4 linked regions of the Homo sapiens genome follow. The protein of the gene in region 1 purifies or fractionates together with the protein of each later gene. This does not show direct contact. Each region holds a gene or a part of one and is shown on either strand. Other genes may lie near its edges.

Region 1 (3,841 bases):
TGCGCCATTGCACTCTAGCCTGGGCAACAAGAGTGAAACTCCATCTCAGAAAAAAAAAAAAAAAGCCAGTCCCCCACGAACCTGGCCTCTGAATCAAGTTATCACTGAACCACACCTATTTCCCCTTCACATTTGCTCTGCCCCCACCAAACCTGGAGGACAGCTGTGCAAAACAATGAAATTGTAGTTGTGTCCACAGGCAGGGGCTTGGAAGTCAATCCAGGGAAACCTGGGCTGCCCTGTGCTCATACCTGACAGCTTCTCCTGGAGCGTGATCACATCCTGCAGGCGGGAGAAAGGCCCAGGTCCCACCTCTGTGCGCGCCCCCATCTTGAAGAAGTACCGAGTGTCGCTCTCCAGGCCATGGACCTCAGCACTGAAGATGTTTCCTGGGGGTGAGGGAGGCAGGGAGAGCAGGGATGGTGGATGGGGTGGGTGGATGCAGAGGTGGGCAGGGAGGGGACTGGGAGAGTCTGCTCTCCACTTAGGCAGCAGCTTCTGCTTGCTTCTCCCAGTAGCCCCTGGAACAAACCCCAGCACTGTTCTCACTGCTGGAAGCGGGAGAGGCTGGGAAGCTCTTGAGCAGATGCCCTGGGGCAGGAGCCCTCACCCTGCGTGGTGAGCAAGGTCCACTGGTGCTCAGGCTGCGTGTGGTTGCTGCTGTACAGGATCAGATACTCCACGATCTCCCCGTTGGGCTCTGTGGGGGGGCACCAGTGCAGCCGAACCGTGGACGGTGTCAGGGGGCTCAGTCGCAGGTCGGATGGGGGTGTGGAGGGCCCTGGGGTGCGGGAGAGGAGATGGGGAGAGATGTCAGAGCTGGGGGACAGAGCATGATGATATGACCTCCCTTCTTCCTCCTTCATGGAACAAGCCACAAAGCAAAGATGAGGTCTGGTTTCTAGTTGGGGAATTCTAGAAAACAGTATGTGTGGTTGGAGGGACTTAACATTCCTCCCCTCCCAGAAACTCTTCTGCCCCCAGCTCTGCCCAAACCTTGGGGTTCTGAAGTATGTTTCTTGCTGCTGGGGCAAGAAGGAGTTGGGCAAAAGATGGGTTGGTGGCAAGGGGCTGGGAGCCACTCACGGTCAGGCAGGGTGGAGCGCTCCACCACAGAGCCGAAAGGCCCATCCATGTCCACGCCGTGAGACTGCACTGCAAACTCGTATTTGGTGAATGGCTTCAAGCCGCCAATGAGGATGTCTTCTCCAGAACTGCTAAGGCAAGAAACGTGACTAGTGCTCTCAGGCACACTCTCCCAGCAGGGCAGACTCCTCCAAATCTACTCCCCTGCAGTCAGCCCCAGCCCCAGGCTCTACCCTGGGAAGGGAAGCTGCTCCCTGGCCTGGAGGCGACTACCACCACCCAGGGACCTACAGAGAAGTCTGGATGTATGCTGCTCCAAGTCCAATCTCGAAACCAGACCCCTTCCTCCAGGAAACCTTCCTGGATTAATCCAAGTTATTCTCCACCTATGGAATCATCTCCGATGCATCTTTTCTTTGGCTTAATTTTGCCTTCATGGCAGTTGTATATATCGGTTGCTTTTTATGCGACTTTCCTCCGCCAAACCTCAGGCTCCTCAGGCTCTGTCTCCCCATCTAACAGGGTAGAGGGAGCAGCTCTGAGGACAGGGGTGGGGTTCTCTTCACCATCAGACTGGGAGCCCTCTGAGGTTGGAGAAACAGGTCTGTCCTGTGTCACATTCTCCGGAGTTTGAGAACAAGGCTCTGTTGTGAGGGGACGGGATTGGATGGCCTCCTTGCTACCATCTGGTCAGCAGGCAAGGACGTGGACCCTGTGCAGCCCCTCTGTGTGGCCTCAGCGTAACAGGTGAGCCATGACATGTTCCTGAATCCCAGGGGCCCTTCCCTGATCACCACCTGCTGCCTTCCCACCACCACCCCCCACCTATTCTTCCTCCCTTCTTTACATTAGTAAAGGCATTAGTCCCCACCTGGTGTAATAGGTGACCAGGGAGGCATTCCTGAGCCCCCAGGGGCTGAAGCGCACAGTGTAGTTGACAATCTTGACTGTGGTGAAATCTGGCTTTTTCCACCGAAGCCAGATGGATGTGGAGCTGTTTGATTCCGCATGGACGTGGGCTGGAGGCAGGGGTGGTCCCCTCTGGATAGGCATGTCTGAAAGGTGAAAACTAGAGTGTGAGGAAGGGAGGGAGGATACTCATCCTTAAATATGTATAGTGGTTTACAGTTCCCAAGGCTGTTTCTTTGACCCACTCCTTTGATCCTGTGAGTTGAGTGGCATCATTCCTACTTCACAGATAAGGCAATTGAGGCTTCCAAGAATTTGATTTTTGACTGTGGAACACTAGTCTGTAAGAACGTAATAAAGAGAGAGGCAGCAAATCACAGCAATGAATAACCATGGAACCAGACTCTGGAACCAGGCTGCCTTGGTTCAAATTCCAGCTCTGACACTTACTAGCTGTGTGACCTTGGAGAAATTACTTACCTTCTCTGTGTCTCCATTCACTATTCTAATGATAGTACCTACCTCATGGGGTTGTTATGAGGATTAAATTATTTAATATTTTAAAAATAGATAGGAAATTGAAATATAATAAACACTATATTTATAAGTGTTTATTTTAGAAACATAAAATAAACCCCAAGAGAGCAAGAACCTTATTTGTGTTGTCCACCACTAAATTCCCAAAGCAGCTGGCACTTAGTAGACACTCAGCGAAATATTTGCTGAATGAAGAAATGAACAAACTGGAATTAGAACTCAGCTGGGTGTGGTGGCTCACACCTGTAATCCCAGCACGTTGGGAGGCCAAGATGGGTGGATCACCTGAGGTCGGGAGTTCAAGGCCAGCCTGGCCAACATGGTGAAACCCCGTCTCTACTAAAAATACAAAAATTAGCCAGGTATGGTGCACACCTGTAATCCCAGCTGCTCAAGAGGCCGAGGCACAAGAATTGCTTGAACCCAGGAGGCAGAGGTTGCAGTGAGCTGAGATCATACCATTGCACTCCAGCCTGGGCAACAGAGTGAGACTCTGTCTCAAAAGAAAAAAAAAGAACCCAAGCTTCATGGCTTCTGGTTGATTACTCCCTCTGCTAAACCATGTGGCTGGGAAGTTAGGGGTGAGGGAGTATCATGATGGGCAACTGAGGTGTCCAATGCAGGGCCACAAGGCAGTGTAGTGCAGTGGAAAGAGTTTTGCCTGGAAACCAGGAGTCCCAGTTGTAGCCTAGGCTCTGTGTGACCTTGGACAAGTTCCTTTTCCTCTCTGAGCCTCAGTTTCCCGTTAGGTCACACAGGGATACTCACTCTTCTTAGACTTGAGAGATAGTCTGATAGTGTGATGTAGACAAATGTGTTTTTAAAAAAACTTGTTTTACAGTCAAACTTGGGGTCGGGAGTTACTGATCAACCATAGGGTTTCCCTCTGTTCAAACTTTGGAAATCAGCACTATTCATGGGTAATGCAAATAAGGTGGCAGGCCTAAGACAGTGAACAAACAAGCTTCTCTCCATGACAGAGGCTCTCTGGAGCTAAAAGAGGACCCCTGATCCTAGGAGAATGGGTTTGGGCATGAGCTGAGGCTACTAAAGTACCTGCTCACCAGGCTGGCCCAAAGGAAAAGAAGAGGAAGCGGCTAGCAGAGCCCTCACCTGAGCCCTCCCCGCCTTCTTCCCCCACCGCCCTCACCTGGTGCCGGCGCCTTCTCCGTCTTGCCCTTCCACACTGCTGCATAGCCATCCTCATGTTTGTTGAAAGCCACGAGCTTCACCTCGTACAGCCGGCCAGGGACTGGGGAAGGTTACAGGGCTTAATGGCTAGGGGGACATCTGGGGTCACTCTCCCGTC
Region 2 (3,841 bases), on another chromosome or scaffold:
GTTGTGACTCTCGTTGAGGCATTGTAGAGCAGGGTGTGGCACTGTTTGGGCTGGGCATCACGTGTTCCAGGGGGCCAGAGCCAGGAGAGGGCCGAAACTCTCCGGGGCACAGTGTCGGTCACGCTGTAGAAACCTCTGAATTTTGGATTTTGCAGCAGGTATGATTGTGGTCTCCATTTTATGGATGGAGAACATGAGGCTTAGTGACAGGTTAGTGCCACTGGGGCCATGTATTAAATAACTGGGAAGTGACAGTGTTGAGACTTACTCCCCAGACTTCGGAATTTAGAAGCACTAGAAGAGCCGTGCAGTGCAGGGCCAAAGGTCAGAGGCGCTGGACCCCGACCTCCAGAGCCCAAAGTGGCTTCTACCAGTATGGAATTCTGACAACTTACTTAAGCTTCCCTGAGCCTCAGTTTCCTTGTCTATTAGTACATGAGCAGGGCCTGCACACAGGAGATGCTTTTATTTATTTATTTTTTAGAGACAGAGTCTCACTCTGTTGCCCAAGCTGGAGTGCAGTGGCGCAATCTTGGCTCACTGCAACCTCCGCCTCCCGGATTCAAGTGATTCTCATGCCTCAGCCTCCCATGCCTGGAGATCAGCTGGGCAGGGCTGATCCTGGAGTCCTTGGCCTGTGACCCTGGAGCCAGGGTGGCCTCTGCTGTCCTCCTTGTCTTTGGGAAAGCAGAGGCAAGGTGCTTGGGTTACAGCAAGAGAGATCTAGGTTAGATGGTGAGACCTTCCTGATGGCTACGGTTTCACATCAAGGGAAAAAGGCTGTTGGTGGCAAATTCTGGACTTGAAGGCTGGAAGCCATGTGGTGGGGGATAGTGGCAGAAAAGGCAATTTTTTTTTTTTTTTGTTAAGACGCAGTCTCACTCTGTCGCTTAGGCTGCAGTGCAGTGGCACAATCTTGGCTCATGGCAACCTCAGCCTCCTAAGTAGCTGGGATTACAGGCATGTGCCACCACACCCAGCTAATTTTGTATTTTTAGTAGAGGTGGGGTTGCACCATGTTGGCCAGGCTGGTCTCGAACTCCCGACCTCAAGTGATCCACCCACCTCGGCCTCCCAAGTGCTGAGATTATAGGCGTGAGCCACCGCGCCCTGCCAGAAAGGGCAACCTTTAGTGAGGCCTGAGTCCCAGGCATTGTCCGAGGGCAGTTCCACACTGAGGGACTGCAGAGGCCGCTGCTTGGAAGGAAGGAGGGAGATGGGGTACGGGTTGGGGGGCGTTTAGGGCTCCAAAGCCTAAAGCCAAACCCAGTGCAGGAGGCTTCTTACAATCGGGGAGGAGGGGAGTCCTGTGAGGGGGAGGGAAGCTTACTGTGGGATGAAGGCCTGGGTTTGGAGAGGCTGGAGGATGGGGCAGCAGGTCCTAGCGGGGGAGGGCAGGGGAGCCTCTGGGCAGGTACGGCCTGACGCCCCGGGTCCTCCCGCCCCGCCAGGCCTGACGGAGGACGAGGACGTGCGCGCCATGCTGCGGGGCTCCCGGCTCCGCAAGATCCGCTCGCGCACGTGGCACAAGGAGCGGCTGTACCGGCTGCAGGAGGACGGCCTGAGCGTGTGGTTCCAGCGGCGCATCCCGCGTGCGCCATCGCAGCACATCTGTGAGAGGCCGGGGAGCGCCGGGCGGACAGGGAGGTGGGGACAGGCCCGGTCCTCCGCCCTGACCCGGCCCTCCTCTCAGTCTTCGTGCAGCACATCGAGGCGGTCCGCGAGGGCCACCAGTCCGAGGGCCTGCGGCGCTTCGGGGGTGCCTTCGCGCCAGCGCGCTGCCTCACCATCGCCTTCAAGGGCCGCCGCAAGAACCTGGACCTGGCGGCGCCCACGGCTGAGGAAGCGCAGCGCTGGGTGCGCGGTCTGACCAAGCTCCGCGCGCGCCTGGACGCCATGAGCCAGCGCGAGCGGCTAGACCAATATCCTGCCGGGGCTGGGAGGGAGGGCCCCATCCTTGGAGAGCCCTAACCTTGGAGAGCCCCATCCTTGGAGAGCCCCCACGCCCAGGGAAGGCAGGGCCCTGTCCTGAGGGCGCACGGTCTGGGTCGGAGCCCTTGGTCTTCGAAACTGAGGGTGGGGACACGCGCCCTGGCTAGGCCCAAGCTCCCACCAGGAGGGGTGGCGCGGCGCCTCCTTCAGGGAGGCCTGAGGCCTTCTGAGGGTGAAGACAGGGCCTCCTGTCTTTGGTAAGCCCCAGTCCTGCGGAGGAGACACTGCTACCGTGCTCGGGGAGTGCACAGGCCAAGGGGAAAGTACAGCCCCTAAACTGGGGATCCCCCAGACCCAGGTGGGGGTGACTTACCAGCCAGTTACCTGAGGGCTGGGGGCAGCCTGGCGTGTTGCTGTTATTTCCTGAGCACCCACACCTGGATCCACTCCTATCTGCACCGGGCTGACTCCAACCAGGACAGCAAGATGAGCTTCAAGGAGATCAAGAGCCTGCTGAGAATGGTCAACGTGGACATGAACGACATGTACGCCTACCTCCTCTTCAAGGTGGGCTTCCGCCCTGAACCCCAGCCCCTGGCTCTGCCATCACTCTGACCTCTGCCTGCCCCCAGCCATCTGAATCATCAGCTCCCCTGCCCTCTCCACCTGCAGCTTTTTTGGAGCGAGCAGCCTTTCCCTGCACAAAGGCAACATCTGGGGTTAGTTAGCCTTTTGCCTCCCCTGAGGCCACTGGGCCAGGAAGGGAGTGGGGAGCCGGGGCCCAGAACTTTCCTCATCCTCAGTTCCTACCCCTCCAAAGTGAGCAGCAAAGCTGTTTTCATTTCCCTGAGTCTGCAAGGCACCTTTTGCACGTGGGGGCACAGGCAGGAGCCAGCCTACAGGTGTGCATGTGCACGGATACACGTGTGCACCCTTCTCCACGCAGACCCTCCACTGTGGCACGTGTTGGCACCTCATGCATGGGAGCACAGGGGCACACAGGAGTGGGCTCTGCAGCTATGGCCCAGCTGGAGCCCATGGCAGACCTCTGTGTGCATGTGGATGGTGGGACCCACCTGTGACCCCGAAAGACAGGAGAGCCCATGGCAGCTGGACCCCTGGGCCACAGCTTCACAGGGATGCTCCATGAATTCTCATTGACTTGTTCAATGATGCTGGGTGTGAATATGTGCATGTCAGGATAGTAACGTGTCCACCTAGGGGAGTGTGAGGGCCCAAGGGCCCTGTCTTGGCCCAGGGTCACCATTTTTCCTTCCACATCTTGATTCCTGGGGTAGGTCATGGTGCAGAGGGGCAGGCACTGAACCAGAGAGACCTTTTAAGTCCAGCCCTGCCGGCCAGGCTCAGTGGCTCACCCCTGTCATCCCAGCACTTTGAGAGGCCTAGGCGGGAGGATTGCTTGAAGCCAGGAGTTTGAGATCAGCTTGGGCAACACAGCAAGACCCCATCTCTACAAAAAATACAAAAATTAGCCAGGTGCAGTGGTGCACACCAGTGGTCCCAGCTGTCCAGCTATTTGGAAGGCTGAGGTGGGAGGATCACTTGAGATCACGCGTTGGAAGCTGCAGTGAGCTATGATCATGCCACTGCGCTCCAGCCTGGGTAACAGAGCAAGACCAAACAAACAAACAAACCTAAAAAACAAACCAAAAAATCCTGCCCTGTAATTTACCAGCTGTGTGAGCTAGAGTCACAAGTCTTACTCTGTTTTTCCACCTGTGAAATGGGGACCATTGCCTTCTCAGATGTGGTAGATGACAGATGGGTCAAAGGGGCCAGGTTTCCTGGAGTGTCTGCCTCCTCTGAGCTTCTCCTGCTGCTCCCCAGGAGTGTGACCACTCCAACAACGACCGTCTAGAGGGGGCTGAGATCGAGGAGTTCCTGCGGC
Region 3 (3,841 bases), on another chromosome or scaffold:
CCTCACTCCCCTGACAGGTGGCCCACAGTCCTGAGGTCTTCCTGCTAGTCTTTAGCATCTGCCAGCTGCCATGCAGATGACTGGTGTCGTCAAACAGGAATGACAGATTGGTGGCAAGTGGGCACAAGAGTTAAAAAATGGTGACAACTTAGACCAGCTGCTCATCTAGCTGGGTGTAGAGCTCACTTTAAATGGAAATGGCAATTTTACAGGTCAAGTGTGTTGTGTATGAATTTCTTTGCGGTCCTACTGCCTCCCAGACACCAGCGTGGGCTCCTTTCTGAGCCACATGTTTAGCAGCATGCCTGGGACCCTGGGAGAAGGCGGCAAACGGGCTATTCCATGGAGGACAGATCCTTGTTAAGGGGCTGTTCCGAGTGCACCTCTGGGAACTCTTTCATTTGGTTACTAAATTCCTTTCTGCTTTTCATGTAGAGAATAAAGCTCATTAGCTGTGTCTTTTAAGAAAGCCAAGTGCTTCACATGAGATACTTATTAAAATATTCTCAAATCCATTCTAATTCTGTTCTTGTGAAGAATCAGTTTCATTCCACACCCCATCCAGCATCTGGCAGAAGAGGTGCCCTATCCCAGTCAGGGAAGAGAGAGTTGTTGGGATGGTTTCATTGCCCTCTCTCTGCTCAGAACCCAGGTATTGTCTTACTGGGGTTCAACACCTGGTTCTTGTACCATGGAGCCCTTTGTCCTAAGCCCTTGTCCATTACACAGCACCATCTACACTACCAAGAATTTCTCATAGAAGTGTAGTGCAGTGTGTGTGTATATAATGCAGAGGGGATCATAGTTCTGAGGTCAAGCAAATTTAGTATATTTAATAAAGTTAAATCAGGCTCCTTTACTAGGTAAATGTTCTGTGGACTGTGGGTCTTCGAGAAGAGGTATGGTGGGCAAGTTTCCCAAATTTGCTGACCCAGAATCTGTCCTGTTGTTTCATTTTGTTTTTGGACCAGTAGAACACACACTGGGAAGGCAGGTAACACAAAATAGCCAGATCATCAAATGCGAGATCCATATAATGCAAAATCAAGACAGCGTAAAATTTGGGATCCTTCTCCAATCTGTGTTTTACACCAATTAAATGTATTTATTTAGTAAGGCACTTAAGTGCTGGGTGAAATATAAAGGGGTGTAGTTCAAAACTAAACTCCCACTGTCAGGAAGCTCAAAGCCCAGTGATGGAGGGGGCCACGAAGATCTGGACAGAGCAAACTAATAATGAGATAGGCTGTGATGGCAATCAGGATAGAGGCCCAAACAAAGCACTGGGATTGGAAAAGGGAGAGAATCCATTCTGTTGAAAGGAGCAGGAATACTTTTGAGAAAGAGGCAAGTGAAATGGACTCCAGTGGATGCTTGGAATATCAAAAGAGAGAGATGGAGTAAGGATGGTAAAGGAAGAAATAGGAGCAGGGTGGGCCCTCCAGGCTCAATAAACAGTCAAAGAGAAATGGAAAAGCAACACTATTACCAGAAGGTAGTAAATGGTTCAGTTTAGCTAGGACAGTTAGAAGAAGTAGAGTTCAAAAGTGGCTAGAAGGATACTGGGGAGGGCCCTGCGTGTCAGGTTGGATCTGCAGTTAAGAAACAGGCAGCCATGTCAGTGCTTGAGCAAAGAGGAGACGGTGCCATCCTCAAGCGGGTGCCAGGTACATGGCAGTTTCTGATAATCTTCTGAAATTATCCTTTGTTGAGTGCACAAAACCACCCTACGGAATAGATGGCCTATCTTTTTCAGTTTAGAGCTGGATTGGGAGCACCCATGAATGCAGTTGGAAGGCATCATGGGAGACAATGGGCCTGGGAATGAGCAATTACTGCCCAATTACTCTGAAAGCATTTGTAAAATCCTAGTTATAAGAGGATAATATGGAACAAGTCTACTGATTGCATTCACCCAACATGATAGGAAATACACACATAATATGTGTACATACATAATTATATATGTCTGCGTATATGTATATCTACATACACAGACACATATATAATCAGAGACTACCAAGGCTCCACAAACCACAGCATCTGTCTATAATGCTCAACTTCATAAAGAGGAGTTAAAGTGTTACAGTGGTCTCGATAAACCAGAGATTCTGACAGGTGGTGGAAGATAGGGCTTAATAAACAAGGTGATATTGCTGGCAAAGTTATATCCTGAAGACTTGGCCAAAAACAGATTTAGAACTGTTGAAGTTGTGGTTGAGTGGGGAAGGAACTGCTGATATTGAGCCATTGCAGCCATGGAGCTGTTGCAACTGCTGAACATGAGCCAGCGCAGCTAGATAACAGGCATCGCTCAAAGTCTGTACTCTGGGTGATGCACACACACTAAAATGTGGGGTCCTCGGGGAGCCTCACCTTGAGCTGTAGAATGAATGGAGATGTTACAAGGTTGGCTTAAAATAAAGGCCTTTATTTGTTTGCTTTGTTTTGGGCACTAACCTGACTTGGATAAAAAGCACAAAAGTGAAGCCTCTGAAAATCAGGAGGAAAGCTTCATCCTGGTTGATGTCCATAAATGCTCCCTTTTCCCCATGCTGCACAGCAAAGTACTGTGGTCCCTTCTTTCCTGGATGACACCTGCCCTTCTCAACAAGGTTCCACAAGAATACGAAGCCCCAATGCTTCCAACGTATAGAATGATTTGCTTCTATCCCTCCTATCTAGAATGTTCCATCCTTGGGAGAATTCACAAAGACTCCCTTGAACTTTTTCCTAGAGGGCCTAATTTACTCTCCCACGAGCCCCAGTTGAGATGGGCTCCCTTCATTACTAAGCCACCTTCCCCCACAGCAAGCCTTCCATCCCATACCTGCAAGGAAGGAGCAGGCAATGTAGTGAGGTGTCTGAAGCTGCTAAGCCCTTTCACTTCATAACCAAATAAAAGCTCCATCAGGAGATATTTTTTAAAAAATGTCTGGAGGTGCAGACTTGCTTGGGATGCTCAGTTGTATTTCTGCGCATGTTTGAAAATCAGTCAATATTTTTTAGTTGGAGACCCAACCAATATAGAAGGAGAAACAGCAGTTTTCACTTGACTTAGGGGGAAATTTACTGCTGAAAAGTTAAGTCTGAATGAGCAACACCAAGAAAACCTGGAACAGCCTATTTATCTCGATGTCTAAAACTGTCCAGAGGGCAGAGATACATGGTCATATCTTTAATCAAAATGCCCTAGGATTCAATGAGTGTCTCGTGGTGAGAAAAAGCAACTGAACTAGTAAAAAAAGAGAACGACATTTCAATTGCCTGATCTTCCTTTTCCTGAAACACCATCACTTAGAAGGTCACGGCTCCCAACAGGCTTCATTAACATTCAAAACGCCTCTGCTTATCTGAATAACTTCCAGGTGCCCTACTGCAATCAGACAATTGACATTTCACGGTAATCAATATCAGGCTTCAAAGAGGTCGAGGACTATAAGTGAACATGAGAGTCAGAAATCAAGAGGCTCAGTCTCGGAGAAGGAGAGAGACAAGAGAAGGAAAGACAGAGGGGTCAGAATCCTGACCTTCCCACATTCTGTGAGGAGGTGGGTTTGGAATGATAACGTATTTATATGTGCAAGCTTATCTTTGTAACTAAACATTCTAGGAAGAGTTAGTCCTAAATCACTGAGGTAGATTAGATTAGGGGGAAATGCCAGTGGAAGCTGCTCTTTCCACTATTTCCCAGTGGTTCACGCTTCCCTGTGGGCTTCCTTATGGACTGCACATCATGGTCACCAAGTAAACATGCTGGAGAGTTCCCAAGCCAGCAGCTGGGGGTGGCAGTGCAATCTCTCTGCATCTACTAAAGGTCATTGTCCCAGGGACATTATCT
Region 4 (3,841 bases), on another chromosome or scaffold:
CTCCAGACTACATGAGGAGGAAGTGCAGGAGAACTGACTTCCTATTGTGCCTTGCATAAAACATTTTGCTAAAATTAAAAGCAGCTCCAAGTGCAAAAGTAAATATTTGTGCAAAAAGGCACACTGCCAGGTGCAATCTTAAAACATCGTCAACTTACTCATTTTATAGTGTTTGACTCTTTTAAATACCAGTCTTTTAAATTATGAAACCTAGCAAGTAAGGGGAAGGAAGTTCACATCAGAAAATACACTTTAGAAAAGGTACAAGACATTTTGCTGGCAATTTGCTACTTATTTCATAACATAGATCAAGTAAGTGTTTGTTAAATATTCACAGTAATTTCAGAGAGAAACATATCTCCAAAACTTCAACCTATTGCATTTTTAACTATTTTTCTGTACAATTTATAAAACATCTGTCAGTGTTTTTCTGAATAATTCCTTCTTGTCAGTCCTTCCCTCTCTGGATCCAGTTATACCTTCAAGGTGGGTTGTAGGATTCCTTTCTCAATGAGATGAGTCTTCAGGGTTTTATATATATTTAACTGCTGTTCAGGTTGAAGCACCAACAACTGCTGTAGCACTTTGCTGGGATTTGGGCCCCTAATGATAAAAGGCAAAGAAGACAAGTTCGTGTTATTTTAATAGGGATAAGTGAAGCACATACCTCCAATTTAAAACAAACCATTCCTTTAAGTGTAGAGTAGGAATCTTTACAGAATTAAAATAGCTCTTGATAATAGCTCACTTTAATGTGCAATGTTAGTGTCAAGGGTTACAGCAGAGAGGGAGAAAGAATGCACAAACACAAAACACAAGAGCAATGTAAGTCAATTGAAGGGGTGCAGATCTAAGTTCTACAAAAGCTCTTGAAAGGGCAACCAAAGTTAAAGGTGGGGATAAATGGCAAATCTTGAGATTGAATGAGACACAAAAACTATTCTGTAAGGAAAGGAGCCTGGTGAACATAGGACAAACCAAAAAGAGGGCATGAAAATATAATTGAAATTTTTAACTTCCAAGAAACTTCAGATGATGAAAGGTATTTTGTTGAAAAATATCTCCAGGGAGTTATGAATATTCAGAGTCAGAACACAAAAGTCCTGAGCCTAGCACTGAAGCCCCTTACCAGTGATACAGGTGCCGTGGACTTTGTTCAAAGACAGTCCTAGGTGAACTCCAATATAAAAAACAAAATAAAAGCAGATCTGCTTTAAAATCCAATGGGAAAAAGCAACATACAAGTCATGTATAGAGATGGCATAGAATTCTAAGAAAGACATTTATGTGGGTAAATAATGTATGCCTTACAGTAAAGATTGTTCACATTGAATTATAGAAAGTAGAAATCCCAGCAACAAAGAAATGTTTGCTATTTAGTGTTACCACAATGAGGATGAGCAGAGGAACTATTTACTCTGAAAATCTTTGACTTAACAAATTGCACAAGAGCCCAGATGAGCCATCCCACCAAGGGTCATCTTCATGCACGTGGCTCAACTCATCTGCCAAAAAACTTTCACACTCAGGTCAGGACACTGTTCGCCTTATTTCATTTCTTTAAAAGAGTCAGCAACTTCACAGCATAAACCCCAAGTAGAGACCAACAGAGAAAAGGAAGGCTGCTTTAGCAAGTTCAGCTAAATGCAAAATTGTGTCAGCAGGTGCTCCCAGCTAGCTGCATCCTGGCACTCTCAGTGTCTTCTAACAGTCTAAATAGCTGCTTTCAAATGGTGGACAACATGGCTCAGCATGACACCTCCCTACTGAGAGGACAGCATTTTTTTTTTAAAGAAAGCATATGAGTTAATGCCCTAAAAAGCTGCCATATTCTGAAAACAAAGTTTTAAGGATTTAACCACTAATTACTAATACCCAAATAGATCAATAAATAATATGCAAATAAGTTAAATAGTCCCATTAAAAGGATAAAGATTATCAACTGTCTTATAAATAAAACAGGGAAAAAAATCAGCTATATGCTTACTAGAAAAAAGAAACACATTAAATATAAGGAAAAGGGAATGTTAAAAATAAAAGGAGAGACAAAGAAATAACATGCAAACACTGACCAAAAGAAAGCTGATATTGCTATTTTAATATTCAACACAGTACGCTTTAAGGCAAGCAGTAAAGACAGACATTATATAATGACAAAAGGATCAATTCAATGGAGAGATATGACAATCCTAAATTTGTACATACCTAATACAACCTCAAAATATATAAACCAAAAATTGGTAGAACTACAAATAAAAAAATACATTTACAATCACAATGAGAGACTTTAACAAAGCTCTCTTAGTAACTGATAGAACAAGCGGACCAAACAAACACAAAAACAAATAAACAAAAATCAGTACAGAAGATTTAATTAAACCTCACCTAACTGACACAGACAAAACTACAACCCAAAACTACAGAATACACCTTTGCCCATGGAGCATGTACTAGAATAGATAACATGCTGTACCACAGAATAGATCTCAAAAATTATAAAATACTCAAATCATAGAGTATGTTTTCCGACCACAGTGGAATTAAGGGAGGAAAGTGAAAAAATCTCCATTTGTTTGAAAACTAATGAATATGCTTCTAAATAACCCATGTGTTAAAGAAGATATAATACTGGAAATCAGAAAACATGTAAATAATGAAAATACAAATATCACAACTTGCAGGAAGAGGATAAAGTGATACTTAATAGTCTTCAATGGATAAATTAGATAAGAAGGCTAAAAATCAATAATCTAAGCTTATCTCCAGAATTAAAAAAAGAACAGCATATTGAACATTTAAAAAAGGCAGAGAAATGAAAGATGAGAGGAGAAATCAATGAGGTAAAAAATTTACAGTAGAGAAAATTAACAAAGCCTGGAGTTGATATTTTTGAAAAGATTAATGAAATTGATAAACTCGCTATCAGGACTGTCTCTCAAAAATAGTTAATATAAAAATTCTCACACTACTGTGGTACATATTTAAAATGTGTATTTAGGGATTGCTAAATATGAATTTCCTTCCAAGTACTATGAAGGAAATCCATGTTTTCTACAGCTCAGGTACTATTAATAAGCATTCTGCCTTCTGGGCCCCCAGTAGAGACCACAGAAAATAAAGTTAACATGCAGTTGATGTTAAGCCTTCACACTCACACTGGTATTTCAAGGCAGATCCAAAACATTAAGGTTTAATAACAAGAATAAACCACCCTTTCTAAAATGGCAATATTCATCCACCCATCCACCAGCCAGCCCCTACACACACAGGCATGATCCCCTCGGCCTGCTTTATTTTTCTGTGTGACACTTACAACCATCTAACAAACTATATTTATTTGTTTATTGTCTCTTTCTCATCATTCTTTCTTCAACTTCCAAACAAGTAGCTATGGGGGCAGAGATTTGGTTTGTTTTGTTCTCTGCCATATTTGTCCCTAGAACATTCTACAATATGGCAGGCACTCAAGTAATAATTGGTAGACTGGATGCATTTCGTTATCTCCCTTTTTAACTCTTAGTATTCATGATCATTGCAATGCCCACAGTTGAGAAATCAAATCTCCTCAAGTTTCAAATCCTATACCATCCACATTAATTGGGTCTTCAATGTGGTCCAGGACCATGACAAATACTATCTTTTTTTAAGTTGTTCAAATGTAGGTAAAACAATTACAAGTTAACCATCTTGCTCAAGACTCTAATTCCAGGGGCCACCATTCACTTTAATATTGTAGATTACCATTGACGGAAAAAGTTAACTTACTCAAACTAATGTTGATGGAAATGAGAACTCAAAGAAATCATCTAAAAAATGTCTCAAGTGTAAAAGTACCTTATAA

The links. Proteins that work in one complex are often made in the same cells at the same time.
Region 2: the proteins of IGDCC4 (region 1) and PLCD3 purify together in Homo sapiens (affinity purification with mass spectrometry; one large-scale study listed by BioGRID and IntAct). This does not show direct contact.
Region 3: the proteins of IGDCC4 (region 1) and ST7 purify together in Homo sapiens (affinity purification with mass spectrometry; one large-scale study listed by BioGRID and IntAct). This does not show direct contact.
Region 4: the proteins of IGDCC4 (region 1) and CDS1 purify together in Homo sapiens (affinity purification with mass spectrometry; one large-scale study listed by BioGRID and IntAct). This does not show direct contact.

What each region holds. Positions count from the first base shown.
Region 1 is NC_000015.10:65,388,198-65,392,038, forward strand, and holds part of IGDCC4 (immunoglobulin superfamily DCC subclass member 4 precursor), read right to left. Parts: intron 3,785-3,841; coding exon 3,683-3,784; intron 2,142-3,682; coding exon 1,958-2,141; intron 1,218-1,957; coding exon of another isoform or gene 1,215-1,217; coding exon 1,087-1,214; intron 782-1,086; coding exon 611-781; intron 390-610; coding exon 252-389; intron 1-251.
Region 2 is NC_000017.11:45,118,983-45,122,823, reverse strand, and holds part of PLCD3 (1-phosphatidylinositol 4,5-bisphosphate phosphodiesterase delta-3), read left to right. Parts: intron 1-1,451; coding exon 1,452-1,613; intron 1,614-1,693; coding exon 1,694-1,922; intron 1,923-2,369; coding exon 2,370-2,499; intron 2,500-3,780; coding exon 3,781-3,841. UniProt on the Homo sapiens protein: Hydrolyzes the phosphatidylinositol 4,5-bisphosphate (PIP2) to generate 2 second messenger molecules diacylglycerol (DAG) and inositol 1,4,5-trisphosphate (IP3).
Region 3 is NC_000007.14:117,225,693-117,229,533, reverse strand, and holds part of ST7 (suppressor of tumorigenicity 7 protein), read right to left. Parts: intron 1-3,841. UniProt on the Homo sapiens protein: May act as a tumor suppressor.
Region 4 is NC_000004.12:84,645,319-84,649,159, reverse strand, and holds part of CDS1 (phosphatidate cytidylyltransferase 1), read right to left. Parts: coding exon 3,835-3,841; intron 604-3,834; coding exon 474-603; 3' UTR 1-473. UniProt on the Homo sapiens protein: Catalyzes the conversion of phosphatidic acid (PA) to CDP-diacylglycerol (CDP-DAG), an essential intermediate in the synthesis of phosphatidylglycerol, cardiolipin and phosphatidylinositol.